Linked DNA regions of Homo sapiens: regions 1, 2 and 4 are each linked to region 3. Evidence: fine-mapped expression QTL. A gene starts in region 3. Each other region holds a variant in brackets. All regions are shown on one strand. Distances are from middle to middle. Region 1 overlaps TRPV5 (transient receptor potential cation channel subfamily V member 5). Region 2 overlaps KEL (Kell metallo-endopeptidase (Kell blood group)). Region 3 holds the start of TRPV6 (transient receptor potential cation channel subfamily V member 6). Region 4 overlaps TRPV5 (transient receptor potential cation channel subfamily V member 5).

Region 1 (8,105 bases), 21 kb after region 3:
CTTAACTTTTCCCTTTCACATAGTGAGTTTGAGGTCCCAAGATGTTATTTTCCTTTCACATCCTCCCACCCTGTTCTTCCAAATCTTTCAGGGAAAGCATTGTAGAAGAAAGTGAGTGTCTGATCTCAGGTTTGGTCTGATCCCTTGTCACTAGGACAGTTTATTTCTAGAGGGTTAGGTCCCTCATTTTAGAAAGGATCATTCTTAGCAGGTTGTGAAGTTTCATGTTCCACAGAGAAAAATAGGGGAAAGAAGAGAGAAAGAAAACCAGTAGAAAAGGAGGAAAGATCATGACAACAAAAGGGGAAAGTAATCCTGGAAAACTGATTTAGGCTATATTGCTCTGAAGTCCATGAATGAGTAGGCAGGCACAAAAGTGGTTTATATATATAAATAATTTGCTGTTACTTTTCCCAAAGTTTAAGTTTCAAGTTTCACTTGGCAGAACTTTAAGAAAAGCACAGTTTTAATTTTAATTTAATTTTAAATTAAAATTTCTAGTTTTAATTTCTAGATTCCAAATGAGAAAAAAAAGGGAAAAAATGAAAGAAAAAGGAAAAAAAAAATGAACAGTAGTTTGGAGACTTGTAGCCAGGAAAGGACTTAGGATTCAGTCCAAATGCATTTTAACAAAGAATGAAACTGAGAAACAATTGATAAGGTGGGGTCTAAGAAGAGGTGTTTTATATGTTTTTTTAAAAAAAAAAAAAAACATAATTTTTATCTCAGTCCTCCATTTTTATCAAAGACAAATCATAGTAGGACTAATTTATTTGTAGAAAAGCTTTAGTTGTATTATACTTCACCTGATTCTTTGTATAAAGTGCAGCAAGAATAATTATTTTCTATTTAGGCTTTTTTAAAATTGACTTTGCTGGAAACTTTTTTATTTAAGGAATCTTAGTTTAGACTTTTTAAAGGCCCCAAGCCCAGTCAAGAATTTATTTGTGCCTGCAGATATCTGTATGAACTGGGCGAATGCCTCTCTTCTTAATCCCAAGATAACTTGGGGTTCCCGGGCCTGCCAGAAAGTAACGTTCTTTACTTATCACAGGTTGGGAACCCTGTAAAAGAATTGTGTAGGCAAGGTACAAGGCCAGTTTTTTTAAGGATCTTTTATTGGCTCTATAAGTCAATGGCAATTCCTTAAAACAGTTTGTTGTTTTGTTTATAGCTTAAAATATTTCATTCTAGTCAAAGCTTTAGTAAAATAATAGTCTCCAATTGTGTCCTGTTACAAAAGAAAGCAGATTCTTATTGAGCTCATACAAATAACTATATTGTTATAAATTAAGAATACTCAAAAATAGTTTTCAAATTCTGGAGAAATCAGGTAGAGAGAAAGAAATATGCTTTAAATTTTGCTCACAAGAGCATATTTTACTCAATTGTTAAAAGCTGTAAACAACCCAAAAAATGAAAAGAATCACCAATGTTTCAGACAAAAAGATCACACAAAAAATTATTTTAGTCTTCTATTAGCTCAGTTCATGCAATTAACCTCTGTTCTATTTGATATTGGGTCAACAATCCTCATGAATACATCAGATCTCCAGGAGTGTCCTGGAAGATTTTTTTCCTCTATTTTAATGGCACAATCTCCAAAGCTGTCAGAAACCTGCATTTAAAAGTATCCATCTGATACAGTTTGGCTTTGTGTCCCCACCCAAATCTCATCTTGAATTGTAATCCCATAATCCCCACATGTGGTGGGAGGGACCCAGTGAAAGGTAATTGAATCATGGGGGGCAGTTCCCCCCATGTTGTTCTCATGCTAGTGAGTTCTAATGAGAACTCACTCATTCAGTGAGTTGCCCACTGTACTCTAGCATGGGCAACAGATGGTTTTATATGGGGCTACCCACTTTGCTTGGCACTTATTCTCTCTCCTGGCACCCTGTGAAGAGGTGATTCTCCAGTGATTCTAAGTTTCCTGAGGCTTCCCCAGTCATGCAGAACTGTGAATCAATTAAACTTTTCTTTATAATTTACCCAGTCTCAAGTATCTCTTCATAGCAGCATGGGAATGAACTAATACACCATCAGAGTCCTATAACTGATTATAAGCAACTTTTTGAAAAGGAACAAAGTAAAATAATAATTGTGAATGACAAAAGATATCCACAGTCAAAGATATAATTGACAAGGAAATCTGGTTATTTCTGTGGCACACAATAATTTACCATAATTATAATTATTACTGATCACATATACCAAGACATATTAAAATTATAAGAATATTATACAATTTTGGAACACATAACAATAGCACATTTATATAAATATATTTCAAAGAAAGTTACACACCATTTTATACTTGGCAATGCCTCCTGTATGATTTTAACATATCAAATAAGCCAAATATGCCTCTGTTGGACATTTAAAAGTCAGTTTGAGGTTAAAAGACTGCATTTAGAATTTAATCTTGGAAAGTTAGTCCAACATTAAAAGTTTAAAGCACTTGATATCGCAAAATGAGATTACAGGTCATTATAATCATTTAGCTAAAGTGATAACTCACCAATTTTAAAAAAAAGCAGAAATCTTTACTCCTTGATAAAGAAGACCTCAGTTTTCTAAAAAATAGGACCTAATAGAGACAGTGTGAAGCCAACTGAATCTGTCTCTCCTCTCCTTCTTCTTTAATTTTTTTGGCAGTTTATTCAAAGGGCAAATGAAAATCTTTTACTATCTCTTAATATTATACAAAAATCTTATTTAAAAGAGAAAACCAAATTTTATTTTTGTATTACTGTATTGTTAATTCTAAAGCTTTAATAGAATCTTATAAGCAAATCTACCAAATTTTAATTAGTTTGATTGTAAGGTAAGATTTCCATGAGGCTTTTATAAACTTTACAAATTTGTGTTAAAGAACACATCAATATTCCAAGAAAATCCTGCCTCACACAGGTGCTCAGATTCTGACCCTGCATCAATGTGCTATTTATATGAATGTTCAATTTGTATAATATCTAAATAATCCCCTTAAAATTTTAGCCAAACTTGATCACACACAAAATTCCTTTTACAAGATCAATCTTCCACAAACCTTCTACGACTTGCTTAAACCTTCAGTTTTGTCGTTTCTGTTAACTTGAAACAGTCCTTAAAATCCTCTAAACTAGAAAAAAACACTTTCTCTTAAAAAAGAACCACACTCCCATGACTTATTTTAACATTTGTTCTCCAAAAAAAAACACAGCCTACCTGTTTAATACACATTGTATGTACCTAGTAGTTTTAATTACATTCATTAATTTATAATGTTAACTCTTAGTAATTCTTATTTTAGTGAAAAACCTAGGCAGTAAGCAATTTTAATTACATACCAGGTGCACAAGCCAGGACAAAGGACAATACCTGGGGGCAGGCCAAGGGCTCAAATCAAAAGACATATAAGTTTATAGACAAGTTAAGCAAGTATTAAAAAGATTACAGGGCTAGTGCAGTGGCTCATGCTGTAATCCCAGCACTGTGGGAGGTCGAGGCAGGTGGATTGCTTGAGACCAGGAGTTCAAGACTAGCCATGGGCAACATGGCAAAACCCCATCTCTAAAAAAAATACAAAAATTAGCTGGGTGTGGTGGTGCACACCTGTAGTGCCACCTACTTGGGAGGCTGATGGGGGAAGATTACTTGAGCCCAGGAGGTCGAAGCTGCAGTAAGCAGTGATCACACCACTGTACTTCAGCATGGGCAACAGAGCAAGACCCTGTCTCAAGAAAAAAAAAAAAGGACTACAGAAGCAGAATTTTAAAGTGCTTCTACTATGAAGAGAATAAAGAAGAATGATGGTGACTGAGCAGTTTTACATACCCTGCCACCACTGTGTCCCAGTGTGTGCGGGCGTGTGTATACACATTGTGC[A/G]ATCCCTCACTGCTGGGCACTCAGCCCTGGGCTGGTGTATCTGAATTAACTGTCTGTGGTTTCACAAATACCACTTACTTCTTTGTTATCCCAGACCACAGTCCTTTGAAAAGCTGACATGGCTTTTTGCTAAGGGTGATGATGGGGCTGGGATTAGAAGTATAGTGCTGGAGACACAAGAGAGGCTGACCATGAGCACCTATAATGGGTGCCCTGGACACATGATTCCTAATTTCCCTCCTGGAGAGGGATGACCCTTCCTCTATTGTTGCTGTTCCTTTCACAACTCAGTGTGGGGCAAAGGGAGATGGGAATGGAGGATGGCTATGTCAGGAGAACAAGCAGGAGCCTGTTGCCTCCAGGCACAAGGATGATTAGCTGCTAGGGACAGAGCAGGAGGGTCCTGGAAAAGAAATGATTAGGCCATTCAAATATAGGCCTAATTTACCATACATTCTTAAAAACACACCAGGATGCAAACACTTCAGACTGTGAGCCTCAAAAAGCAAAGATAAGGCAATTCAACAACAACAAAAACCTAATTCGAAAATGGACAAATAAACTGAAAAGACATTTCTCCAAAGAAGGTATATAAACATCCAATAAATAGGTGTATAAAAACGTGCTCAGTATCATTAGTCATTAGGGAAAGGCAAATCAAAACTACAATGTGAAGCCACTTCACACCCATTAGAAGGGAATGTAAAATGGTGAAAGCTATTGTGAAAACCAGTATGGCAGTTCCTCATAAAACTAAACATAAGAATTGTCTAGCAATTCCATTTTTAGGTGTATGCCCAAAGTATCTGAAAATAGAAACTAGAACAGATATTTGTATACCATATTGATAGCAGCATTATTCACAACGGCCAAAAGGTAGAAAAAACTCAAATGTCCATTGGTAGATGAATAAATAAACAAACTGTGTCAAATTTTGGACTAAGATTGCAGAATCCCACTTACATAAGATACCTAGAATAGTTAAATTCATAGACAGAAAGCAGAATATTGGTTATCAGGGACCAGGGCAGAGAGATAGCTGGAGAGTTATTGTTCAATGGGGATTAGAGTTTCAGTTCCGAATGATGAAAAAGTTCCATAAATGAATAATGGTGATGGTTACACAACAATGTGAATGTACTTAATGCCACTGAATGGCACATCTGAAAATGGATAATATGGTAAATTTTATGTGACATGTATTGTGCCACAGTAAAAAATTAAAGAAGGCAAGAATAAGGAGACTTTTTTATTGCAGTTGGTGTTTGCTTGCTAAGTGGAGAGAGAGACCTACAGGAGGCTGGGAAAAAAAGAAGGGCCACAACCTCTATGCCATGCCTGGCTCTTCCCACGTAAGCCCTGGGGAGCCAGAAAAGCCTCACAGCTTACTACTTTCTAGGGGCTGCGTGGGGCAGAAGAGAAATGGTCCTGACATTAATCTAGCATCCCTGCCTCATGTCTTTAGTTGCCAACCTCCTTTTTCCTGAGATGGGTGACTTGCAAGAGCCCAGAAAATACGTGAGACAATCGATGACCATTGCCCATTGCCAGAAATTCTGATGTGAAGTGTGAGGCATGACCCTTTAGGGATTGTTCTGTCTCACCCTCCCATGATTAACAGGCACAGAAGTTAGACACTTGCATAGGCAGAGGTCTCCGTCTCTGTCCCCGCCCCCAGGCCAACCGGGAGTAAGGTCAAGAGTGATAGCGATGTTAATCAAAAATGGTAGACCTCCTCTCCATCCCCCTCACTAAGGTTCAGTCCAAGATTCAAGTGCCCCAGGGTGTTTTGACGAAGGATCTCCCAGCCTCGGTGACTGCTGCTCTGGGACGCGGTCCGGGACAGGGAGGAAGTTGGAAGAGCCAAAGAGGCTCTGGCTAGAGTCCCACTCTCAGCCCCAGAGGGCTGTTTCTCAGATGGATGCTCCTGGTCATCCTCCTTGTCTGAGTTCTTGAACACTTCCACATAGCGAAGCACTCGCAGAGGATTCTGATCATTGTGGTTCTCAACCCTGATAAGGGGAAAGGGGAAAGGACTCAATCCAGGTGGGGAGACATGGGCAGGGGAGAAGTAGAGGTGACCATTTAGAAAGCAGGGTCAAGAGGGAAGCAGAAATAAGGCAGCAGAGTTGAAACAGGAAGAGTATCTGGGATCAAGTGAAGGGAGGTGATGGAGGGCAGGCTAACCTGGGATAGAGATAATGGAGGCTGAGCAATCAGGGCTTGCAGGGTGGTAGGACGCACACAGGTGTGTGTGTGTTTGTGTGTTACTAATACGTAGGAATGTGAAAGAGAAAACAGAGCCAACTAATAGATAAGCGTGTCACAAGGATGACGAGATGCAATTCAGGAAGTAAATTTGAGGAGAGAGGAGAGTCACGCCGGGAGATGAGGGCAGAATATGAAGGAGGAAGTTAGATCCAAGCCAAAAGTACACTGGAGATGAAGGTCAGCTCAGAACAAGGTTACAGCAAGTCTGGTAACCCATGCTGACGTCTGAGCATGGACACATGCACACAACCTTTTACACGTGGCTGCCCTGAGGTACACACAGCATTCTTCGTACCCCTCCACTTCAGCTCCAGCCCCCTCCCCTAGACAGGCTAATGTAGGCTCCAGGACGCCTGTCGGTCACCCTTGCTTCCGTGGCCTTATACACATCTGCAGTTTTGCATGTGCACACCATCACTCACCGCAGGAACCAGCGGTCCCCCAGCCCGAATTCGCACCCACAGATCCCGGAGCGAGGCCACAGGCAGCGAGGCAGCTTCCGCTCCAGCATCACTGTGGTGGCCACGACCTGGAAGGAGGCAGGAGATACAGGAAGAACTCTGAAAGAGCCATGAGGTTCAAAGAGGCACTGAGGCCACTGATAAAGGGAACCAAAGGCAATCTGTGAGATAGGACACTAGAGGTCAGTGGTGAGAACAGCCACCTATTCACCCCACAGCCTGTGCCAGGCACCATGCAACCAGCTTCACTCATCAAGAAATGAGAGAGGATTTTTTGTGAGTGTTTTGAATAAAATAGTTGCCCTTACATTACTATTCACTCATGGAGAATGAGTCACTCCAAACTAATCTCAACTTCTTTTTCATATAAAAGCCACAGACCAATTATCTCGATTTAAATAAAATGATTAAAGAGAATCTCTACGATCTTGGGGATGAATTGATACTGTTACTGTTCAGGGAATTTTCAGCAAATTAAATATCCACATCTTAGGAAGGAAAAGGGTTGATTAATGACTGCAAGTTGGCAGGGAAATTTCTGGTAGCAAGTCCACCACACGTTCTGTCCTTTGCTCAGCCCTCATTAATTACTTAGATGAAACATGGGAAACAAGCTTATCAAATATGCCTGTGACACAAAACTGGGAGGGATATGTAATATGTGGGGCAACAGAAGCAATATAAAATTATCTCGCTAGATTGGAATGCTGGTGTAAAATCATTAACAAGAAATTTAAGTAAACCAAATCTAAGGTCCTATATTTACATTTAGGAAGCTTAGATAAGTGAGTCATAGAACAAAGGTGTGGGAGTGCTAGCTGATCACAAGCTTAATAAGGGCCATTTGTATATTTGCTAAAAGACCTGACTCAGCTTTAGGTACCCTTAGCATTATGTCCAAGTAAGGAAAGGCATAGTCCCGCTTTGTACCGCATTGCCCTAATCATACTGGGGACTATTCTAGTTTCAAAGAAACCATGATCTATTAGAGCATGGACAAAAGGGTGCAATCAGAATAGATCAGAACCAGGAAGGCTTCCTAATTGAAGGAGTGCAATCTTCAAAATAGCAAATTCTTCACCTCATGTTTTTCTACTCCCTATCTTCCTCATTACTCCACACTTCTTTCAGTTTCTTAATTGCACCAAGTTCCCTCCTAGCTCAGGACTTCCAGTCATTCTGTGCTCTTACCCTGGATAGCTGTTCTTCTTTGCCTTGAAAGAAATGTTTATTGTTCCTCCTGAGCCATCATGCAGCCCCGTCCTTCCTCGGGTAACAGCACCCATTTTTCATTTAGGGAATTGCTCCCTCATCACTTTTAGTGCATTGGTTTGAGTGGACTGGGCTTCACACAGTTGTGCTTAATTAATCTATTTTCCCCCAAACCTCCCCTCCACCACCATCACCAACACCTCCACTATCTAGTCCTTGGTCTTTCCTTAGATTCAACGATGTGCCTATGACCCGAATGTGTTCCCATGAGATGGAACATGGAAGGAATTG
Region 2 (8,105 bases), 70 kb after region 3:
TTTGAACATGGAATCAACTAGACATAAGGAAGGCCACTGCGTAACATATCTCTCTGTCATCCCAATAAATTGTAAGCTCTAAGTCCAAGTTATCCTGAGCAAATAGTGTAAGCATCATGACAAAGAAAGGGCAGTTTTGATAATATCAGAGTTTTATATTTGAGCTCAAACACCCAGCAAGAAGCCAGAGAGGTAGTCAGGCTGGGAGATGTGTGCCTGAAGGTCTGGCACGTGGCATCTTGGTTTTCAAGTTAAACTTTGTCTGTCCAACTTGCCTGCTTCTATGGAAAGCCAAGACATGGAGGGGCATCTACCATCACGGCCCCCTCCCTGAGAGAGAGATGCCGACATTTACCCCTCAAAAGAGTAGATACTCCTTTCGAGTATCTGGGCAAATACACCCGCTCCTCTCCTCACCATGGGTGGTTGCTCTGTCAGTTCCCGCAGTTTCTGGCTGAGCTTTCTGCGTGCCTCCTGGAATTGACTGTCCAGGGCTGGAGAAAGGGTCACCACCAGCCCTAAGATCATGTGGCTCTGCAGAAAGTCCCTATGGAGACAAAAGAGACCCACACATATACCCCAGGAATCTGGGGATGCTTCAAGAAGAGCCTCTCCTTGTGTAAGTCACCTTGATACTCGTGAAGGCAGCTCCTTCTCCTCTGTATTAATAAGTGTTTTAACATGCACCCAAGTCAAAAAGAGCTTTTCATGATGTAGGTTGGGGTGGGATCTAGCTCCTTAGTAAAAGAAACTAGATGAAGAGGCAGCCTTCAAAGTCACAGGGAAAGAAAGTTCTGGGCTAGATGGAGTCTGGACTCATGTCATGAAACAGATTCTGCTTCCACAGTCAAGATATCTCTGGTTATCCTCAGATGTATCTCATAAGCATAAGTAAGCTGGTCTCTGTGACTGCTCTCTCCTCCACCAGCAATGCTCCTGCCAGGGCTGCATTGCACCCTTATGTAAGCCTGCTCACTGCCATGTGAATGGGCAGCTACCTCCCTCAAAAAGGATTTCCAGATGCTGCTGCCACCATGAAGAAGGCCCTTAGGTCCAAGCCCCTGGAAGAAAGCCACTGCTTTCAGGTGGTAGCCACCCAGGTATCAGGGGAGGCAGAGAGCCCAACAAAGAGCCACTCTTTCATGTCCCCAACCCCAACACCCCCTTGATTTCCTGACACCAGCAGAAATGCTCTTAGACATTGTTTCCCATAAGAGCTCCAGCATCTTCACACCACACCTGAGGAATGGCCCCTCCTCTTCCTTTCTTCCCCTAAGCATCCCCAGCCTTCACCATGTTCATCTCCTCATCTCATGTGCCTCCTCCTCCTGCCCACAGTCCTCAGCTGCTAAAAAGACATACATACACTTAACTGTCTTCTGTGTCTGGGTCTTCCAGCATCTTCTACAGCTCAGAGGCTCTTGACTGGCTGGTGTTCTACTCTCAGGAAACCCCGTGTCTTGGCTGACCCTGCGTTCCTCATGTCGTGTGTATCCTCCCTTACTCGTGCTCCCAAGACACATCCTTCTTGATCCCTCCATCCTCTCTGTGCCACCCACCCCACGCTTCTCTGCCCGCACAGGTGGCAGGTTCCTCTTATCCTCCTGGGAGGCCCTTACCAGCCTGCCTTCCCCAAGGTTTCCTTTGCCCCCAAGATCTACGGTGCTCAGGCTCTCCTCCATTTCCATGATCTCCCCAATCCCACCTGCGGCGAACCTCTGCTTTAGCAGCATCTCCTCCACCAGTTGTGACATGTTTTTCAAATATTCCACGTCATGGACCACGAGGGACTGAGAAGGGCTCAGGGACATCGGTGTGAATGTCGCTTGCAAGCAGGACAACCAGTCGATGGCGGGGGCCATTTCCTTAGAGGAGGGACACAAAGCTGAGGGGGAAAAGGAAAAGAGAAGGAAGGGGAAAGGGCTTCCCCTTGGGTGTGAGAAAAAGAAGAGAACAGGCTAACTGGGGGAGGGGATGGAGTCAGAGACAGAATGAAAAGGTATTAAGGGCACTAGGAGGAAGAAGGAAAGGAGGTAATGTTTGAGAGGAAGATCCCCATGCCCACAGTCTTCTGGCCCCCAGTTCCAGGCACCTTGAGCTGGTCGATAGTGACCATCTGGAAGAGCTTGCCCTGTGCCCGCCGCTGCTCCAGGGGCCTCAGAAACTGGAACAGCCGTGAAGTGATGGAGATTGACAAGGAAGAGTGTTCTTGCACCTTGCTTGGGTCTCCTCCCAGCAAGGTTCCCAGCTGATTCAGGTAAGTCAGGTATTCCCGAAAGATCTGGAGGAAGGAAATGTCAGTCACAGGTGCCAGAGGTCCCTGCTTTTCTCCTGGCCTCAGAGGGCAGGGCCTTTGTCCATGTGCCATCTTACCTGGGCATAGATCTTCTGTTCTTGATCTTGCTTGAGGGGAACATCAAACTCTGGCTGGTCTATCTGGGCACAAGAGAGACTGGAGAGAAGCAGGGAGCATGGCGGATGGAGAGGGCAGGTGTGGGGAGGTGGGGAATATACCATGGGAGATGGCCTTGGGAGATGGACACAAAGATTGGACAGAAGAGAAGCAAGAGTACAAAGAAAGGGAGGGATTAAGGGTTGAGGGGCATGAGAAGAAGAGTCCAGATGTGAAAATGGGAAGAGATGGTGAGTATTACAACCAGTGTGGGTGTGCCCAGCAAGGCAGAAGCATGATAATCAGCATCTTAAAAGGAGCTATTCCTTGTCTCAGGAACAGGGCCAGGGTGAGTGAGGTGAGGAACCTGTCCCAGGTACAAAATCTAAGAGGTACCAAAAACTCAGTAATCAAACTGCAACCTAACTTAGGAGTATATTCTTGCAACAGGTAGCTCCATCTCAGCCAGCCATACCAGCTGATCTTCAGGCAACCACAGGCTGTCAAGTGATCAGACCATGCCCATTAAAGACAATTGCTAAGCTGTAACCAATCAAGCTGTTTCTGGGTGTCACTTCCTCTTTCTGTAAATACTGCCTGCCTGCATTGTTGGGTGGAGCTCTCTGAACCTCTACTGCTTCAGGATGCTGCCCAATTCATAAATCAGTCTTTGCTCAAATAAACTCTTTTTTAAAAAAACTCAGTAATCAAGATAAATAATTAACATTTTAAAAAATCAAAATTACTACCAAAAATGTATGATAAATAAAATCTCAAAACTTTGCTTATCATGGACTTTTTTTCCCCAAAAAAACATACTTTTAGTCAATTTTGAAAAGAATCATGATGTGTTCAAGAAAAGTCCTCAATGTATTTTTGATTCATTTTGAATAAAAAAATTAGTATTTTCAAAAAGATTCACACAGAATTTTGTCCCATTTTTTGGGAAAAAAAGCATAATCTTTTTTCAAAAAAATTCATAATGAAGAAAAGTTTGATATTTTGTTCCATCATGTATTGTTGCATTGATTTTGATTTTTTAGGAATATTTAATAAAATACTATTTATCATGATACTGAGTTTTGGGGACCTTCTTAAATTAGCACCCCAGGTAAGCACCATGTATATTTCACCTTAGTCTGGCCCTGATGAACCCTTGTTTCTATTCTGAAGATCTTTGCTTCTACTCTTTCCCTTTTCTTCTCCAATTTCAATATCCCACTCTTATCTTGAGCCATATACTTTTCCTTCTGTCTCGAAAAAAACTTTCACTTGACCCTTTTGCTACATTGTATGTCCACAGTTCAAAGAACAAAAAAGCATCTATGCCCATTGTTTCCACTTTCTTATCTTCCTCCTAAGCTCTGTGC[A/T]GTCTGTGTCCACTGCCATAACTGTTTGGAAAGTATCTCTAGGTATCCAAGGGTGTCTTCTCATTCCTTCTTCTCTGAGCTGACCCCTCCTTCCTGAAGCTCCTTTTCTTTCCTTTGTGGCCCACCATACTGGTCTAGCTCCCATCTCTCCAATAGTACTCTCTCTTCCCTGGCTCCCTTCTGCCCTCAGTCTTTGGACTTCTCTTTCTGTAGTCCATTCTTCCTACCTGCTTTTAACCCAAGAGACTATCCAGGCTCACACTGATGATAATCACCCTCCTCCCACTCACACTAAATCAAAACAATGGGATCACTGTGTAATCCCCCACTTTCTTTCTTTATATCCAATCAGTCACCAAATCCTCTAGAAACAGCATGAACTATCATCACTAGGGTGAAGTTGCCTAAATCCTTGTGCCTGGCTCTTCCTTTCCATTTCTACCTCTATCTCAGGGCCTCAAAAATGCTCATTTAGTTTCCTCAACACCCCCAGACTGACCTTCAAAACTGCTGACTCTACGCACAACCATCAAAATACTTGCTCTATGCACAATTGTCATAAGAGTTGGATGGCCTCAGTAGCTCTTTTTTTTTTTTCTATTATGTCAAATGTTTCACCTTCGCCTGGCTTCTTAGAAATAATCAGGCTCAACCTTATGTCTTCAGTCTCACTTTTACCTCCCACTGCACCCCACCTTGCCTCCCAAATCCTCAATTAAATAGATCAGCCTCCTCACTGACTCCACGAAGGAATCACACCATTCCAGGTCCTCCCCCTGGCTCAGCATTTCCAACGCCCCATAGCTTCACCTCCACTTGTGTGAATTAACCATGTTTCAAGGCTGGCTTAGCTCACCTTCTCTCATTCTCTCCTCTCTGAGCCTCTCCTTAACCAGATCTTAACCGGCCCCTAAAGGCCACATCAGTTAAACTCCTGAGCAGACTGTTTAAAACTAAATTTTAGAACACCTCATAATGATAATCAATTCTTCTTTTGTACTTATCCTTTGGTAATTTTGTGGCTCTTTTGACAGTAGGGCCCAAATATGCAGATAGCATTACATTGTTTAACCACAAGAGTGATAGCTCCAGTGTTTTTATTTAGTTACTCACTCACTACAAATACCTGGCAAAACTTCTAGCTGCCTGGCCCTGTGATAGGTCCTGAGAAACAAAGGTGAATAAAGCATGGTCCTGTTCTAAAGAGGCTCACAATCTTCAACACAGAGTGATAAATGCTGAGAGCATGAGGAAACGAAAGTAGGGAGAGCAGGGCTTCACCTAACTCATAACTAGGGTGTCGGTGAAGACTTCCTGGAAGAGATAATAAAGCCAACATTTGAAAAACATGTAAGTTTTCCAGGTTCAGTGTGGGGGATGGTTGCAGGCACAGGGAGCAGCATAGGCAAAGAACTGAGGAATATTCCTGGAAGCAGCAGTGAGTCAGCATGGCTTGGGGGTAAGGGAGAGAAGGAATGTACGGGAGATAAGGCTGGAGAAGTGTGTAGGGGTCAGATCACAAGGTGCTTGCAAAGCTTTACTAAAGATTAGGGACTAGATTCTGATGACCTGGCAAGCCACTGGGTCACTGACAAGCATTTAAATACAGACAGTAGCATAGTTAGTTAGCCCTTGGTTTAGAAAAGTTCCCTCTAGTAAAAATAAAGAGTAAATAAAATGAGGGCAATCCTAGAGATAGGAGGACTGGTTAAGGGGCTCTGAGACTAATCCAGATTAACAGTAAGAAAGACCAGGCCTACTTCTGTCTTCCCAGCACTGGCTCTGCTGCTCCATTTCCCACCCCCAGCTAATGTCCCTGACTTTCACATCAATAATTTTCCCTTAAGGTAGGGTTGTTTCCTATATCACACAGGTGTCCTCTCTTCCCAACCTGCAACCTTCCTCTAAGGGATGATTGGCTAGAGTTGGAGGCAGGCCAGGTCCAACTGTGTCTTCGCCAGTGCATCCCTCACCTGGATGACTGGTGTGTGTGGAGAGGCAGGATGAGGTCCTAGGTAGGCTCTGAAGAAAGGGAAATGGCCATACTGACTCATCAGAAGTCTCAGCGTTCGGTTAAAGTTTAAGGAAGTCCATTTACCAGAGATGCGCCAGCCTCCAAGCTTTAAAGGAGAGAGAGGGGGCTGAGCATAAGGATCCGTGGAGCCCATCCCCCATTGTCTGGATCGGCTCTTACACAGCTGCTACTGCCTGACCTCTGCCCTGCGCCCTTCGATTCCTCTAGGAAGCCACATCTATCCTTTTTTATCTGCCTTCTCCCAAGGTCCTGATACTTTCATAGGGCATAACCATTTCCATCTCCATCTCCCTCCTAGAAATTGGGGGGCCCTAGGAAGAAGACCCACCCTCTAGAAAAAAAAATGGCAGCCCTAAGCATGCATTGGTCCCATATGTTATGTATCCAGAAAAGTTAATATCCCAACTTTTCTCACCTCCTCAATAACTTGTCTGAGGGGACCAGTCCCTGCAGCTTCAATGGCAAGTGTATCCATGCAGGAGTTGTAGAACTGGAAGGCTTTCTCCTCCCCAGAGCCTGGGTGCCAGGAATTCTGGACCTCTAGAAAGGAAGCATGGGAGTGAGGACTAAACTCTGATTTTTTTTATCTTGCCCCAAATTCCTATCAAAGGGGTCTGGGGAGTCATGCCCTATATCATAAGTTCTCATCAGATGGGTTTTATTTAACCCATGTAACATGATTTACTTTCTAACCTGATTCTGGCATAACATTACGAGACAAAGAAGAAAACAAAAATATTTTACCCCAAAACATGTTTCTTTGCCACATTTTGAAATGGCCCTGCAAAGCTGTTCTTTGTGGAGGAAAATTTGCATCTGTAAAGCATCTCTATTAGCTATTAACATATCTCATTAACATAGCTAGATCTTTTGATTAACTAAGATCTGAATAGGAAACATTTGTCACCTATTGTCTCTAAGGGCAGCCACTATAAGACTTCAAAAGAACTTCGGTCTCCGCAATCTTTATCTTACCCTGAACATTCCCTTTCTATCTATCCCAGATCTTTAGACAAACTCAAGCAACTGTCAATCCGGAAATGTTTAAATTCACCTGTACCCTGGAAGCCACCCCCACCCCTTTGAGTTGTTCCACCTTTCTGGACCAAACCAATGTATTTCTTAAATGTATTTGATTGATGTCTCATGACTCTCTAAAATGTATAAAACCAAGCTGTGCCCCAGCCACCTTGGGCACATGTTCTCAGGATCTCCTGAGGACTGTATCATGGGCCATGGTCACTCATATTTGGCTCAAAATAAATCTTTTCAAATATTTTACAGAGTTTGACTCTTTTTGTCGGCAGGAGAATTAAAGGAGTGGCAACTGGTATAGAGGCAAAGAGGGAGGGTGGGAGACAGGGAGCTTACAGGAAAGAAAGACTCCCACAGAATATGGAAGGAGGGGGAGGAATAGAGATGAGGAAAATAAGAAAGATGAGAGGACTGCCCAATTTGGAATGGATCAACTTGATGAAATGATGAAAGCAGGGAAAGAGAATGAGGAGAAGAAGACAATATGGAAAATAAAAGAAATGTGGGGAAGAAACCAAGAAGGAAAAGACAGGGAAGAAAGGAGAAAGGTAGCAATAAGTGGGATATGGGCAAAGGAGAAAAGAGAGAAATGAAAGACAAAAGAAATGATTGAAGAAATTAGACAAATTCAGGGAACTAGAGAACTTTAAGGATTTGGAGAGAAGAAAACTCATAAGGAAAGGTTTAGCAAAGAGAAGAAACAGGGGAAGACTCTTCTAGTCCAGACTCCTCATCCATTGATCCCAGGAAACAAACACACTACAATAATCAAATGCAAGTCTCTCTGAATCATCCACCCTCTAATATCTAACACTCTTTTCACCCTCAGTCCCCCTGATATCTATTCATCCCATTGTAGGCAATATAATTTATCCTGAGCATATTTTTTCTTTTTATCTCTGTGCCTTCCCTGAAAGTATCCATTTACCCAAAGAGAGGCCCCCTCCCACTCTTTCCCCATCAAAAAAAGAGGGCAGAGGGGTGCATTTACTTTTCCCAGATTCTAATTGATAGTGTCAACACATTCTTTAGGTTCCCTTGCACTGGAAATGCATGTCTATCTTATATGTTCTTATTCCCAAATCCTCACCACCATCCACCAACTTCCTGGGACGCACTTCCAACCTCCTACTCAGTTTCAGCTCATCCTTCTGGTTTTCCTCTCAGTCCTGGCAGTTTTCCTCTCCAGCCTCCATCTGCAGGAACTTTACTTCCACTGCCAATTAACTCAGCTCTCCTCTTCTTCCAGCATATCCTTTGTACTTACCCACTT
Region 3 (8,105 bases):
GGGCTGCCTCTGGGCCACCAGGGAAGGATTCCTGACTTCCTCTCTCCGTCTCCTCCGCCCCACACCCTCATCTGCTCCTCCATCCTTGTAGATGTGTGCACTGTGTGCATGGGTCCAATTTGGTTTTTAGGTGCTGAGAAACAAGGCAGGATCACAAGACTCTTGAGAAAAGTTCAAATAAGATTTTTAGAGCTAGAAAGCCCCTCAGAAACTGAGTCAAATCTGCTCATGAAACAGATGGAGGAAGCAAGTCAGAGACAGAGCCACGACGCATGCCCCACTGGTCATTTCTTGGTCACGATTCTCAGTTTTAATCAGGGCTGGAAGAGGAGTTAGAGAAGACAGGCATGGGTCCCACTGGTCTCTCCACAAATACCTTTCCCACCAGTGAGTGTACCCTCTGGGCAGGGCTGGGGCTGGTACATAACAGGGTTGCTCGGAGTGCGTGGCTTCTTGCATTCCTGGGTGGATACAGTGCTGTGCAGGGGAAGTTCATGGCCCCTCTCATTCCCGCAGCATCTCACTCATTATCACTTTTGCTCTTTACAACCTTCTAACACCAGCTGAATAGTTCTCCCATGCTTCAGAAAAGGAAACTGAAGCGGCATAACCAAATCATTGCCAGAAGATCACACGGAGTTAAAGGCAGGATGCTTGGCCAAGAATCCAGCCCCAGGCTCTGACCACTAAATTATGTGGTTCTTCTAGTTTTATGGCTCCTCCTGATTTTTCTTGGAGGTTGGGGGGCAAGCCTGAGCAGTGACCACAGATGAAGGAAAGAGCGGTAATGTGTGGGGCGGAGGCATACATTGGGCACTTGTGGGCCACCTCCCTCCAGCTCATGTTCCTGGCAATGGGGATGAGAAAGCCAAAGTGGTTGTTTAGAGATTTGGAATCGGCTGCCATCCTAAGTGCCACAGCTCCTTTTGTGCACATGTCTATTTGCGCATTTACAAGTAGGCATGTGTGTAAGTATTTACCAAGGCAAGCGTGCACAATATACCAGAGAAACCCAGGGATGACTTTTCAGACACTCAATTCACACATTTCATACAGGTATTTAACCCTAAAAAAAGCTCCAACAAGCATCACCTTCCCTCCAAATTGCTCCTTAGATGACAAAGTGCCAGCACATGGGCTGGAGTGGGGTTCAGGTTAAGCAGCCTCTATGAAGCTGCCCAGGACACCCCACAGCAGCCGAAATCAGATCTCACACTTCCCCCTCTATGCTTCCAGAACACTCATTTACACCCTTCTAGTGATGTCTACTAAGCCCATCTTTAGCCCCGTATGTGCCTTCAGTAAACTTTGGTCATAGGAATGAGAACTCCCTGAGAGCAGGAACAGTGTCATATTCATTTTCTGCAGAAAGGTGGAGTGCCTTATGTTCAATAAATGTGTAATGCATTAAATATCAGGAAGTGAGAAAACCCAAGCCCAAGGGGGAGATGACCTGGAGGACACGGGAGAAAGTTGAGAGCTCGACTTGGATCCCAGCAATGTAGATTTAAGCAGAGCGGGCTGCGTGCTAAGCACCAAGAAACGTCCACTGTAAAAAGAGGAGTTTGGGTTCCCGATCATCCTGGAGAGACTCAAAGCCTTCCTTTCTCACTAGACCATCCTGTACCGCATGGAATCCCACGCAATCCCACCCCACAGTTCTCCCTGTGAGTCCCCTTTGGAACAAATTCAACTTCACCATTTACTTGCTCTAGGGTTCTGGGCCTGCCCCATTCATAGGGGGATAACAGGACCCACCTTCCATTATTGTTACCGGGATGACGGAGATAAGGCAGGTGGTAGTACCTAGTACAGCACTGGGTTCTCAATCATTGTGTGCTCCTTTCTTCCATTAGCTCACCCCTCACTTGTCCATATTGTTCCTATTTACTTAGTCATCCCATGTTTATCTCAATGCCCCCATGCCTTCTCTTTGGTTGACGGCACAGATTAGGAAACTCCCCTTGCAGGCAATTTCAGCATCCTTCTGGGAAGTGCCCACCCAAAGAAGAGTCATTGCTCTGGACACCTGATATCCAGCAAGAAGAAGGCCAAGAAAGTGCGGAGGCCAGTAAGGAGATCAGGGCAGGGAGGGGGGATCCCTCCCAAGGGTGACATCAAGCCTTTCTAGCCAAAGTCTGCAGAGGCAGCCCCCATATGATCTGAGGAAAAGTGAGGGCAGACAGGACATGCGGAAGCAGCCTATTCTCAGCCACTCAGCGCAGGGCCTCCCCTCTGCTCTCCCCTGATATCGCACACAGGGAATCTCCACCACCCCTTCCAATCCCCCAGGCCTTTTTGCACTCTGTGCCTGGATCCCCTGGCCCTGGGGTCCTAAGAGTGGGAAGAGGATGAGTGAAGCCAGTGAGGACGACCTACTCTCTAACAACAATGCCATTCTGTTGCCCCAAGATGTCATCAGCCAAACATGTGCTCCAGTCCCCACTCTCCCAGGCCTTGGGGGAGAGGTGGGCGGCTGGAGAGATGGGAAGCCATAATTCACAGAAAGAGACCATCCCCAACCCAGAATCCTTCAGCAAAAGAAAACACAGGGGCCTCCAGGCAGCCTCCCCGGTCAGGCTAAAGCAGGCTCCTACTCTTGGGGTCAGAGAAAAACCCTAAGGCACAAAGACTTCAGGCTTTCCTCTATGACCAGACATCTGCCTCCTTCGTGACCCAGGGAAAGCCCCAACAGGCAGGACTTCCTTCTAGCATGCCACCAACTGGGTAGAGAACTCTATTAGAGACCTTGAAGAAGAGACCACATGCAGGGATAGCCCTGAGTTCCGATTCCCTGCTCCTCTCCTGCTCTGTACTCCAAGCTGTCATGGTGAAGAAAGCAGGACACGGGTTTAGGAAGTTTTCAGGGGCTGGAAGCCACCAGTGAATGTCCTTAGGGCTTAAACGCTAGAGTCTCGATTTCCACCACCTGAATGCGGAAGAGCACAGGTCCTCGGAACATCTGTTATTTTGACCCGCTTCCCCTCAGTCCCCACCCGCACTGAGAGAGAAATACACCTCAAGGTTGGGTTTGAGCGTTGTAGGTCTTCATATCCCCCCAGTGCTGGGCAAATAGTAAGGCCTTGGTCAGTGTCTGATGAGACAGATACATAGGAATGGTCACTTTTTTCACATTTTGTCTTATTTTCTGGTTCCTGGTGTCCGCGGTTCTCTCTGCTTCATTCATTCAATCGTTCACTCATTCCTCCATGCGAACATATGTATACTATGTGTTCCTGCCAGAGAGACTGTTCTAGAGGCAAGCAGTGGAGATACAGAAGGCATTGTCCTCACCTGCCGTCCCCTCTTGGGTGGAGGGGCTGTGATGCTCTATCCTTACAAGCCCCAGCAAGACGCCTGGCCCTTAGAGAAGTACTCACAAGAGGCTTGCAGAATCGAATTAGATCTTAAGATAGTGAACACCTGTGCCCATCTCAACCCCATCCTCTTTCACCAGCCCTACAGGCTGAGGCTCTTAAGACAGAATGCTCCCAAGGAGCCAGTCCGGGCCTGGGAGCACCATCTGTCCAGCCAAAGGTGCCAAACAAAGACGGGAGGTGAGGGAGGGGTGAGGGGTAGAGGTGCAGGCCTGGGGAGGTGGGGAAGGGAGCAGACCAAGGGGGCCTTACCTCTTCTGCTGCAGCAGGTTCTGCTCATCTCGGCTCTGGGCCCAGGACTCCCGTCTCTGGAACCATCTGCAGAACTTGCTCCATAGGCAGAGAATTAGCCCTTTCTCCTTGGGCAGTGACAAACCCATGGGGTGTAGGGCCGGCTCCTTGGGGGCCTGAGGCCGAGGCCAGACCCTGACGGGACTCAGCCTTGGGGCCACATCAGCCCCCCCAAGGGCCGGCCCACCGTCTCCCTGTAGAGGTCCCGTCTCCTGTCTCCTGCCTTCCTGACGAGTTCCTTGGGAGTCTCCCAGCAGCCCCAGCCAGTTTGGAGAGGGCTGTGAGTTTGTTACACTTGGCAGAGCCAGCCAGGACTCTGCAGGGCTGGCCTGTCTGGAGCTCCTGCTGGGAGTGAGCAGGAGGAGCCAAAGCTGCACGGACACGCCCTCCCTCCTCCCAAATTACCTGAGATTTAAAGACACAGGCCAGCCACAGACCTGCCTACCAAGGGGGACTTGTGCCAACTCCAATTCTTTCTCCACCCAGGGCTCTCTCCCTGCCCCCAGGCCAGTCACAACCAGGGAGGCCTTCAGAAAGACTGGCGAGGCCTCCCTTGGACGTCAGAACACCCAGTGACCTACCCTGAGAGACTCTAGGCAGTGAGAAAGGAGGGGAGGAGTCAGGGCAGGCCCATTCCCAATGTTGAGGACTCCCAGGAGGGAGCGCCCCACTTTCCCACAGTGCCTCTTCTGCCGACCACCTGCCTCACTCTCTGCCTCCCCCTGCTTATGTCCTGGAGAATTCCATTTTCTGGACTCTTCCAGTTTCATTCTTGCCAGGCCTGAAATAGGTATATAAATTGCGAAGATACTCAGTTCTCCCAGACTTTCCTCTCAGTCCCCATCACCTTTGGGTCAGCAAACTTTTTCTGGAAGGGCTGATAGGAAATGTAAAGATGTTAGGTTTTGCAAGCCATGTACACTCTCTAATGTACGTTATTCTTTGGTTTTGTTTTGGTGGTTGTTTTCTAACCACCCCCAAAGATGTAAAATGCATTCTTCGCTCACCAGCCAGGGCACAAAATCTAGCTCTGGGCAGACCCCCTGCTCAGGAGCTCCACAGACTGTCCACAATGCCCCGTGCATGGGGTGGGTGCCCGATAAAATACAGGACACGTGGTCAAATTTGAATTTTAGATAAACAACAAAGAATTTTTTAGTATAAATATACCCCACGTTTTGCAAGTATTCTATCTGCCAGCCTTCCCGTGGAGGTGACATTCAGCTGCTACTGTGTGCTGGGCCTTTTAACTGAGCGTTCCCAGGTAAACTCGTAACAAACCTGCAAGGCAGGTATTATTATCTACATTGTATTGATGGGAGAAACCAAAGCTCACCATGGTAAAGGAACTCTCCCAAGGCCATAGAGGTGGCAGAGGCAAGATTCACACCCATCCCTCATTCCAAGCCCACTTCTTTCTCCCTAGCACACCTCCTCATTCTAACTGGCCAACAGAGCTTCAGAGAGGTTAAGTGACTCGCACAGTCATACAGAAGAATGATGGCATTAAGCATGGCCCATCGTCTTCCCACAACAAAGAGCTCCATCATGAGCTTGCTGGAAGCTGTCGGAAAGGTCATTTAGTTCAACTTTTCCACTGGAAAGGGGCAGAAGCCCGGGCTTATCCAACCTCCTGGTGCCAGCCAGGTGCCAATAGCCTAGGGGCAGGTGTCTGGGTGTTCAGAGTCACAGGTGTGTGGATCACTTCCTAGCTTCAGAGTCTGTTTTGTCCTAACTTTCTCTGACTCAGAGTTGGAAGACCCAGCCAGGGGAGTGTGTGTGTGGCGTGTGTATGGCGTGTGTGCCCATGTGCATTTGTGTGTGGTGTTTATGCGTGTGTTCATGATGTGCATCGGTGGGGTGTTTTGTGTGTGGTATGCTGTATGTATATGATGTGCCTGTGGTGTGTTTGGTATGTGTCTACGTGTGTATGATATATGTGATATGTGTAGGTATGGCCTGTAGAGCGTGTGGATGTGGTGTCTGTGATGGTATGTGTGACATGTGTGTTGTGTATATACGTATTGTGGAAAGATTGTTGCATGTGTGTTGTGTGTATGGTGTGTAGTGGGTGATGTATATGGTACCTTTAAGGTATGTGTGCGTGTACATGATGTGTGTGTGTGTGTGTGGTGTATACATGATTTGTGTAGTGTATGGTGGGTTTACTATGTGTGTATGTATGGTGTGTGTTGTGTGTGTATGTATGTCATGGGGTGTGTGTCATATGTGCTGTGTGTGGGGGGAGTCGGTGTGTGGAGGGAGGTGGATGCTGAGGTAGGGCAGGGGAGAGAAGGACCCCTTCAAGTGGAAAGCTATTTGTGTTCCTGCCGCTGGGCAGAGGCCAGGCCACGCAGTCCTGAGCAAACAGTTCAATTGGATTAGCTTCGTCCCCACCCACCTGGGTCAGTGGGTTCGGGCTGGGTTGGGGGAAGGTGCTAGAACCCAAACCTTGAACCCCAAGACCTTTGTGCCCATTAAGCCAGTGGTTTGTCGCTTCAAAGACCTATTTAGCTTCAAAGACCCCAGTTTAGTGTCTGGTGGGGAAGGAGAGAAAGCAATGAGGCCTTCGTTACGCTGGGGAGAGAGGCTGGGGGAGGGAGGCTTTGGGAGGGAGACTTAGGGAGGGAGGAGGATAGGAGGAGGACAAAGTTGTTTTCCAATGCTCTTCCTCTTCCTCAGCCTCCTCCACCTGGTGTTGTGCATGGATCAGCCAACAGACTCAAAATTGGGGTGTCCAGATGGGAGGGGAGGACAAGTTTGCAGGATATAAGCTTCTGGCTGCAATGTTCTCTTGGTCTTTGGACCTAACATCGTATCAGTAAGGGAAGGTGGCCCTAGGGTAGGTGGCACTACCCCCAGAAGCTCCTGAAAGCACCCCCACCAATCACTTTCAGTCTCGCATTTTTTTTTTTTTTTGAGATGGAGTCTTGCTCTGTCATCCGGGCTAGAGTGCAGTGGCGTGATCTCGGCTCACTGCAAGCTCTGCCTCCTGGGTTCACGCCATTCTCCTGCCTCAGCCTCCCGGGTAGCTGGGACTACAGGCGCCTGCCACCATGCCCAGCTAATTTTTTGTATTTTTAGTAGAGACGGGGTTTCACCATGTTAGCCAGGATGGTCTCGATCTCCTGACCTTGTGGTCCGCCTGCCTCGGCCTCCCAAAGTGCTGGGATTACAGGTGTGAGCCACCGCGTCCAGCCTCAGTCTCACATCTTAAACCTGCATCCCATATTGCTTGTTTCCAGGGGACAGGAAGGATGCCGTGGACCTCCTTCTCCCTTGAGACTAGCACAGCCCCCTCTGTGCCACTCCACCCCAGGGCAGCACCTCCTGACATGGGAGGAATCGGTTCTGTAACCCACAGTCAAGGAGTGGGCATGCCCAGGAGGCTGTGAGTTTTGGGGTGAAGGTGGTGAGGGGGAGACTGGAGATCCTGGGAGAGCACTCACGGGGCTGGCCTCTCCCGGTTCCCTTTCCCAGGCTCCAAAAATAATAAGACTTGTGTGACTTCTGAGTGAGTCGCTCTTCCTCTCAATGATTTTATCCATAATGATGAGTGCATGGCCTGACCTCTTTTCTGCCCTCGTGGTGGCCTCTGACCAAGCCCTGAAGAGAACCGAAGGGGTCAGGAGCCAAGAGGGAGGGAGGACAGGACTGGAGCAGGCAACCTGGGGACCAGGTGGTTAAACCAGTCCTCCCTGCCTGGGGCTGAGCCTCAAATGCTAAGTGAAAGTGAGGTCCTCAGGCTTCCCTGGGGGCCCCAGGGCAGAGTGTCAGAGCCTCCTCTGACGGCCCCTGAGAGGGGCAGAGAGGTCACAGTTACACAGTCCTGAGCTGGAGGCACAGGAGCTCCAAAGAGCTCCTGTGCCCCCGATGTTTCCGCATTTGGGGCACAATTTCTCGACCCCGGCACTATTGATATTTCGGAACAAATAATTCTTTTCTGCAAGGGCTGTCCTAGGCATTGTAGGAAGTTTAGCAGCATCCGAGCCTCCACTCACTGGGTGACAGTAGCATGTCCCTCCCCTCCATTGTGACCACCAAGGAATGTCTTTACACGCTGCTCATGAATGTCTTTACACGCTGACATTGGCAAAATCATTCTCCATTGAGAACCACTGATTTAGAGCCAGAAAAGTATATGTATAGTTTTTTTCTGGCTTTGTCACTTTTTATTTGTCCTATGTCTTTCTATGTTTCGCTCAGTTTTTCCTGTCTTACTGCCTCTGTCACTGTGCAATAGTATCTCTGCTCCCTTGCTCTTAGTCTCTGTGGTGAGGGGTGTGTGTGTGTGTGTGTGTAGTGTGTGTGTACATGCATTGCATGTGTGTGGTATTTTGGGGGTGTACTGGTGTATTTCTATAGTGTGTGTGGTATTTTGGGGGTGTATTGGTGTATTTCTATAGTGTGTGTGGTATTTTGGGGGTGTATTGGTGT
Region 4 (8,105 bases), 42 kb after region 3:
ACCAAGAAAAGAATATCTGAAAGTCCAAAGTCTTCTCTTTGAGCTGAAGTGGCTTTCACTGAAGCAGAAGGCAGAAAGGGTAAAAATGCCAAGGAACAAGAAGGAAGGCAGAAGAGAGAAAGAAAGAAGGATGGGTCAGGTGTTCAGCTATAATTATGCTTCTGAGTCCTGAAGCAAAGGAGGCGGTCTTTTACATACAGACTATCTGGATCAAAGAAATGTGATTGTACATAACTAGCCCTGTCCCAAAGAGAAAGAGACACACAGGAAGGAGAGTTTTGGTTATCAGTGGCTCAGCATTGCCCACCTTTTAACCCAGAGTCCTGTCTACCTTCAAAATGCAGAAAATCTCCAAGTAAATTTGAGACAAAGGAAGGTTGGAGAAGACATATCTGAGGAAATAGGGCCAGGAGCATTGGAAAAGTCCAGTCATCCCCACCTTGTTTGTGTTTTCTCAATTTCTAATCACTCCTCCCTCCACTTGCCATCTCCTAACTGTCCTTATTTTCCTCATGTCTCCATGCCAGGGACAACTTTTGCGGCCAGACTGAGATGCATGCAGCACAACTGCTTCCAGTGTCTCTAACACATTCAGGCTTGTCCTCCCCAGGCAGCAAGACCTACTTGGTGAGAGGCAGTGTATCTGGACACATGACACACTGTATATATATACATATATATATATATACATATACATGTATATATATACATATATATATATATACATATACATGTATATATATACATATATATATACACACATATACATGTATATATATACATATATATATATATAGACATATACATGTATATATATACATATATATATATATATACATATACATGTATATATATAAAGGCAATTCTAAAAACAGGAGAGATGGAGTGTCTCTACCTAGCATAGGGTTCATTTGGGCTCTTTGCCCTGTTCTTTCTCTGTGCATATCGCTGTCTTTGGTCTAAACAAATTCAGGATTTTTGCTTCTTGGCTATAGAAAGTTTATATTCTCTTTCCGACTGAAACTACCCTGCTTCCTAGTCCAGGCTGAGCTATACCTATGGCTGCTCTCTCCTGCATTGAGATAAATCTCCAATCACTCAGTTCTCACTTGCTTTGCAAAATTCTTTTTCCTGGTCTTTTGCTTTCTGCTACATACCTACATCACCTTCTGTGTATTTTCAGCTCACCAGGACAAAAATTTTAGTAATCCACAAAGAGTCAACCCCTCAAATATAGCTACAGTTGTTAAATATATATATTCAGAAGTGCTCATTAGAGTCTACCCTTTCTGTTGCACAAAAAGGAGGTTTACTTTCTTCAACAGCAGATTTCTATATTTACTGTGTACCTCGAATCAGTCCTCTTCCTAACCCTAGTTTTCCCTTGGCCACCACAACACAGAATGGCAGGCCCACAACACTAAATGGAGCCTCAGAGAGTATTTACTTCAGCCTGATACCCAATCCAGACATCCTTCTGCAGAGTGTCTGACAGGCAGTCAGACAGCTGACACATTATTCCCATGGGCCCATATAGACAGCACACAGAAGAGGGTGCAGGCCAGCAGGGCTGTCTGTGTTGCCCAAATACAACAAAAATGGACTCAGAAATGGACTTGGAGCACAATTTTCCTCCTTTTGAGCAATAGAGTTTACCTTGAACATCCCACTAAAAAACCCTGATACTTTTTGTAAATTACCAAAAAATTTCACAAAAGCACAGGCTTACTCATGCCAAGCACTCTTTCAAAGTTTGTGTGAGAAAATCCACAGCTCCCTGGACAAATGCTCTTGTGCTCATTAAACCCCATCTGTGGCCTCCTGGTCTCATGTCTAATTTCTACCTGGGTGTTTAGGAGCCTACACCTGCTGGAACCCAGAGCGTGGCATCGTCCCTGAGTAGCATGGCTTCGTTTCCAGCACCATCACCCCTTGATGCAATTCTCTCTCATCCCCTTCTGAGGAGAATCACCTGTAGTAGTTTTTGCTGGAGGATGGTGATGTCTCGAGAATGAGTGCGGTTGCCACCACGAAACTTAAGGGGGCGGTAGACGCAGCACGTAGTAAAGCAGATCATGTAGAGCAGGTACAAGGCAGCCAGGATGCAGAAGTACGGCCGGCCATACTTGTTCCACTTGAAGCTCACCAGCTCCTTCACTGGGGTCTGTTCCAGAATTTGGCGAGCCTGGCATGGAAGTAGAGTGAAACTTGGGGTGACCAACACAGAAGGATGTTGTTTATCCCACTGGGGGCCAGAAGAGGCAGGGCAGCAACCATCACTCACTCAGCTCATCAGTCACTTATTTGACGGACAAATAGTATATTTCCTGCATATGGCTGGGCCTTGTGCTAGTGATACAGGTAAATGACTATAGCAGTAAACACAAGGCACCATAGCACCAAAGAGGATTTAAAGGATGAGTAGTAGTTAGATGAGTAAAGGGAGAGTTAGGAAAGATCATACCATAAGCTAACAGCAGTTGCCAGGTCAGGAAGGTCTGAGAAGCCATTGCCCATTTGCAGTTGAGATGTGGTTGGGGAGAGGGGAGAATCTATTGGGAGTGGTAGTCAGAAATGATAATGACTGAGGAAGAACAGGGCCAGGTCATCATGCATCATAAATGCCAAGGTAGGAAGTTTGCATTTTTTGTTTTTTCTAAATATAACAGAAAGCAACTGGGGAGTTCAAGCAGGGAAGTGGTCAGATTTGCTCTAGAAGTATTATTGGGCTGGAAAGAAGCAATGGAGGTTACAGGCAGTAGGATGTGGCAGGGTGGGATGGTGCTCTGAAATAAGCAGCCAGTGAGACGTTAAAGATACACAGGAGAGGGGATGATGGACGGGAGGAGGCATCTGAGAAATTAGAAAGAGACAGATTCAAAGCACAGTAGAGTGATTAGCCATTAACAGCATGAATATCTTTTCTACTGAAGCTGGAGGGGAGGAGAGAGACAGTGGGCAGTTTCCAGACATGCTCGGCAGTGTAGGGCAGGAAGCTGAAGGATCCCCAGCCAGAAAGCCTCTATTTTTGTCCTAAATCAGGAGTCTAGGTCTTCTGAACTGCAGCTGAAGGTAGTGAAGGATGTGAAAGGGGGCTAGAAAGGAAGATTTATGGAGGAAAAAAGCAACTGACCCAAGACACTTATGAAACCTGCTGGAGAATATTGAGAATAGCTTAAATCAAAGACCAAGGATATGTGGTGGCGAAATCCACACAGTGGGATTGTGCTTTTAATACCTAAGAAATCCTGCTCAAAGTGTATCTGTTTCCAGGGATATTCTCTGAGGAAGATCTCACAAACTAGCCACTCAACTTTTCTTCTATTCGTTAGTATTAATAATCATTCATGTTTTCTGGATCTATAAGGATTCCTGGGAAATTGTCACTGTGGCAGATACAAAACAGAAACTACATCTTGGCACTCTCATGGAACGTTCTGAAACCTGGAAGTCTTTTCTCCTCTCTACTGCAGTCTTCAACAAATTTTCGTTTCCCTCACATCACTCAACCCAGCATTGTTGAATGGTCTATACGTTGCTCCCTCTCTAAAAAGCTCTTTTTTTTCTCTCATCTTCCTGTGACTCCCAATTCTTCCTTGAAGATCCAGCCCCAGCATTTCCTCTGTGACATCTTCTCTGGTCTATCCAAGCCAAGTTAACTCTACCTCAATGTGGCTGTCTGCATGCATGGTACACACAACTATTACGGCATATGTCATGCTCTGTTGCAATTATTCAGGACAGGGACTGAGAATTGAGGAAGTTGATGAACAGGAACTGTGTTGTATTTATTTCTGTACTGTTTGTTTCTTGTGCAGTGCCTGACATACAGCGGGTGTTCAATATGCTTGTATTAGTCCATTCTCATATTACTATAAAGAACTACCTGGCACAGGGTAATTTATAAATAAAAAGGTTTAATTGGCTCATGGTTCTGCAGGCTGTACAGGTTCTGGAGAGGCCTGAGGAAACGTACAATCATGGCAAAAGGCCAAGAAGAAAGCAGGCACATCCTACATGGCCGGAGCAGGAGGAAGAGAGAGCAGGAGGAAGAGAGAGCAGGGGGAGGTGCCACACACTTTTAAACAACCGGATCTTGTGAAAACTCACTATCACGAGAACATCAAGAGGGAAGTCTGTCCCCATGATCCAATCACCTCCCACCAGGCCCCTTCTCCAACACTGTGGATTACAATTTGACATGAAATTTTTGCATTTGGACACAAATGCAAACCATATCAATGCTGAACCAATGAATGAATATGAGGAAACAGCTCTTATTTGGAGTTTCTCATCTGAAATGATAGAAGGCGAAAGGTAGGCAGAAGGGACTGGAGCTAAGCAGAGAGACAGGGGATTCAGGAGAGGAGTGTGCATTGGACTTTCCCCCATGTCCCAGGAGACTATTCTCATCTCCACCTATTATAAGGCTGGGAAGTGTCTCAGGCCCAGGATCTTAGTAAGTGGACAGACTCTGCACAAACACTAAATTCCCTCACATGACAGGCCTGATCCTCCTTGGCATCCATACCTCTCGTTTATCAGAGGAGACCACAAGCTCCAGGAAGGACAGCTCCTCTCCCCAGGAGTCGATCTCCGTGAGGTCGTAGAGAATGGAGGTCAGGGGTCCATACGTCCACTGGATGTGCCTCCGCTTCTGCATCAGGTGCTGGAACATCTGAGAGACCACCAGGATGAGTCAGGGGGCCAACGTGTGAGAAGGTGGTCGAGGAGAACAACTCCATTGGATGGAGCCAGTTGCCCA[C/A]CCCTTGAGACAGACAGACAGTGGGAACCAGCAAACCTCTGCATCTACAAGCTTTCCCTTTTTTGTCATCTTTCCTGCTCCAAAACCCCAGAAAGTGCAGAAAGAAGAAAATAGGCAAAGGAAGCTAGAGCTTTGGGTTATCACAGCACATGCATTAAGGTAAGGTTCTCAAATCCTCTTGAGTCAAGGACCATGAAGCTGAAGATTTCAGTGATGGAATAGGAAGCAAGGGACCACCATCCCTTTGGGGAGTTTGGGGAAAAGGGATTTTAGAGAAAGGTGGGCCCTTCACCTCTATTTCTCCCAGGGCCAGCAGGATAGGTTGAGGGTCATTAGAAAGACACCTCAGGGATGGGGAGCGTCTCTTACCACAGTGTTACCCTCCACTCCAGCCAGCTTGAAGGGGGTGAGACCCTGGTGATTGGGCACAAGGTCCAGGGGCTGCAGGTGGTCCCCATGTCCATCATAGGACAGCAGCAGGTTGTACATCTGGCAGGCAAAGGTTTTGTTGGGCTGGAGGATGAGGATGTGTAATACTGTGTTTCCTGGGGAGGACGCAGGGTATCATGTGGCCACTGGCCTAAAGTCCCTGATGTCCCCATCCCCACTCTGGGGTCTTCCTAAAGGTCCCAGCTCCACTCCTTACCCTGTCCCTCGCTCCCCACAGCATCCCAGCTCCCCTCCCCATCCCAGCTCTTACCCAGGGAGTCCTGGGCCCTGATGTCAGCTCCATGCTCAATGAGCAGCCGCACGATCTCCTCGCTGTTCACACAGGCAGCAAAGGACAAAGGGTGCTCCCCTGTGGACACAGAGAGATCCATGGCAGGAGAACGCAGGATGGCAGGATGGGGTGGGCAGTCTCCCCCAAATAAGGGCCTCCTCCTCATCCCCCATATCTCAGTTCTAGGCTGAGGGACACTCGTCCAGCAGAACCAGAGGAAGGAACCATCAGGGGAATGGGCCTCTGGCTTAATTAAGCCCTAGAAGGGCTGCCCCTCTCAACTGCCCAACAGATGGAGCTGAAGGCAGGACCCTCATGCCCTGGCCTCCCTCTGCCTTGCCCGCCTCTCCAGCCAACCATCCTTCAAGCCCAACCCTGCTCTCACCAAAGTAGATGAGGTTGCGGGGACTATGGCGGAAGGCAGTGCCTGTGGCTCTGGCAGAGACACTGGCCCTGCGGGTGAGCAGGGCACGCACCAGGTTCACATTCTGGTTCACAACAGCGATGTGCAGTGCAGTCTGACCTGGCCCAGAGACAGCCATCATCAGGGTCTCCCTCTGTCCCCAGTTCTCTCAGGGACACAGCATCCCCCACCATCCCTCTCAGGAGGTTCCTGATAGATCTTTGCTAGACTTCTGCCCTGGGCTTGGCAGGGTGGCCTGGGACTAAGAGCAATTCATCCCTCAGGCTGCCCTGCTCATTGACCTACCCTTCAGTTATTGGGAGCCAGCAGGGGATTGCTATGAATATAATCATTCTCATGTTGCTATGAGAGAAAGAAATTGAGATAGGTCCTACAGGGACTATGGGAGGTTTGAAAGGAAATGCTGAAGGAAGCCACAGATTGGTAAAAGCCAAGACCAGGACCTTTGCATTTCTCCCAACTCAACGGAGCCCATCCTCCTGACCCTCCATCACCCCACCCCAACCCATCCTTCAGAGGCCAATTTTAAGAGACAACAGCACACCCTCCATCTCAAAGTTTCCACCTTGAATTACCATGTAGGCTCCTTACCTGCAAAAGCCTCACATGTGGTGGGCTCAAAGACCAGCTCTGGGGCAGCCTCCATCAGCACCAAGGCCGCCTCCAAGTTGTCATAGAGGGCTGCTATGTGCAGCGCCGTCTCCCCCAGGGCTCCTGGATTGGAGTAAGACAGAGATGTTAGACACTTTTCAGATTCCCTTGAGGAAGGGGCCTCAGGCTCCAGAGACACCCTCCAAGGCCCTATTTCACAAACTCGAAGTCTTGGGGAGGAGGAGTAGGTTCTTCTGCCCCCACCTCCATCCCATTAAATCCAGATCCCACCTCTTTGTCGAACGTCACAGGTGCAGTCCAGTAGAAGTTGCCTAAGAACAGACAGGTCATTTTCCTTGGATGCTCGAAGCAGTGGAGACTCTAGAATCCTGGGGAAAGGTGAACGTGAGTTTGGAAGAGACAGTCATAGCAGAATGAGGCCAAGAGCAAAGGGGATCTAAGACATTCTTTAAGACCAACGTGACTCACACAGCGTGCAGTGACAAATTGGAAAGAAGTGCCTACTGGACTCGAATGACCGAGGGTGGACTTGGGCAAGGGTCAGCCCCAGGGCCTTCCTTGCAATTCACATCATGGTGATTCTCCTGTGAGGATGGCCCTTGAAGCTCTGCTGGAGGGGAAGAGTTAATAGGAAGAGAACCTGTAGTCTGGAAAGAGTGGTCTGAGAGTCTCTAAGAAGAGGACCCTAGGCTTGGCTGAATTCATCTAACCTGAGTAACTGTCTCAGATCCTGGATAGTTGGAGAGCGGGACAGAGGGCACTTCCATCTGCGGTCCCCCTGCTCCTGGGCCTGCTGAATCTACTGTCTTTAACCAAGGGGAGTTTGGGAGACCAAAACACAGAGGGAGGAGGAATGGATCGACTGCTAGATCTTTCCTAGGCATTTTGAAATTTGTGAAATTTGTGAGGCACTAAAGTTCTGACTACTCCCTCAGGCTATTTTTTTTTTTTTTTTTTTTTTTGAGACAGAGTCTTGCTCTGTTGCCTAGGCTGGAGTGCAGTGGTACAATCTCAGCTTACCGCAGCCTCTGCCTCCCAGGTTCAAGCAATTCTTGTGCCTCAGTCTCCCGAGTAGCTGGGATTACAGGCACGCACCACCACGCCCAGCTAATTTTTTGTATTTTTAGTAGAGATGGGGTTTTGCCATGTTGGCCAGGCTGATCTCGAACTCCTGAGCTCAGGCAATCCGCCTGCCTTGGCCTCCCAAAGTGCTGGGATTACATTGCGCCCAGCATCCTCAGGTTATTTAGATACAGGTCCCTGCAGGGGGTGGAGAGTTGTGGGGTGAGTTACAGGGTGCCTCTTTCTTCTGCATTATACCCTTAGATGCAAAGGTCTAAACAGCTTGTTTATGTGGGTGTCTCAAGGCAAAACAGGTTGAGATACTCATTCTACAGGACCTCTGTTAATCTTTGCTTCTACCATACCCAGATTTGAACCCAGAAAGAGATAAAGCTGGAGCCTCTCCAACTAGACATATGTGTATTGGCCCCAAAGGCAAGCACATGGTGTAGGGGGAAGAACAGAAAGGACAGGCCGATGAGTGGCTCCTCTGAGGTCCCCACCTCCAAATCCCTCTCTTC

The links. PIP is the estimated chance that this variant, and not a neighbour inherited with it, causes the effect.
Region 1: its variant is fine-mapped to the expression of TRPV6 in whole blood (TOPMed, PIP above 0.99). The same link has a PIP of 0.9 or more in blood mononuclear cells and monocytes.
Region 2: its variant is fine-mapped to the expression of TRPV6 in whole blood (TOPMed, PIP 0.97).
Region 4: its variant is fine-mapped to the expression of TRPV6 in whole blood (TOPMed, PIP 0.96).

Annotation. Positions count from the first base shown.
Region 1 is chr7:142,902,927-142,911,031 of GRCh38, forward strand. It overlaps TRPV5 (transient receptor potential cation channel subfamily V member 5), which reads right to left. Exons shown (of 15, transcript NM_019841.7): 14 at 6,564-6,670; 15 at 5,175-5,882. The coding sequence ends at 5,588. Among named protein-coding and RNA genes, the nearest start is that of TRPV6, 21 kb to the left of the region's middle. The variant A/G (reference allele first, on the strand shown) is at 3,871.
Region 2 is chr7:142,952,092-142,960,196 of GRCh38, forward strand. KEL (Kell metallo-endopeptidase (Kell blood group)) reads right to left here. Exons shown (of 19, transcript NM_000420.3): 5 at 6,213-6,337; 6 at 5,736-5,882; 7 at 2,374-2,436; 8 at 2,093-2,281; 9 at 1,717-1,865; 10 at 418-547. Among named protein-coding and RNA genes, the nearest start is that of KEL, 6.2 kb to the right of the region's middle. RefSeq lists an enhancer at 5,687-6,402. The variant A/T (reference allele first, on the strand shown) is at 3,763.
Region 3 is chr7:142,881,760-142,889,864 of GRCh38, forward strand. It overlaps TRPV6 (transient receptor potential cation channel subfamily V member 6), which reads right to left and starts at 3,986. Exons shown (of 15, transcript NM_018646.6): 1 at 3,630-3,986. The coding sequence starts at 3,877.
Region 4 is chr7:142,923,557-142,931,661 of GRCh38, forward strand. It overlaps TRPV5 (transient receptor potential cation channel subfamily V member 5), which reads right to left. Exons shown (of 15, transcript NM_019841.7): 2 at 6,793-6,890; 3 at 6,502-6,624; 4 at 5,872-6,009; 5 at 5,466-5,564; 6 at 5,135-5,310; 7 at 4,532-4,678; 8 at 1,973-2,185. Among named protein-coding and RNA genes, the nearest start is that of TRPV5, 6.1 kb to the right of the region's middle. The variant C/A (reference allele first, on the strand shown) is at 4,766.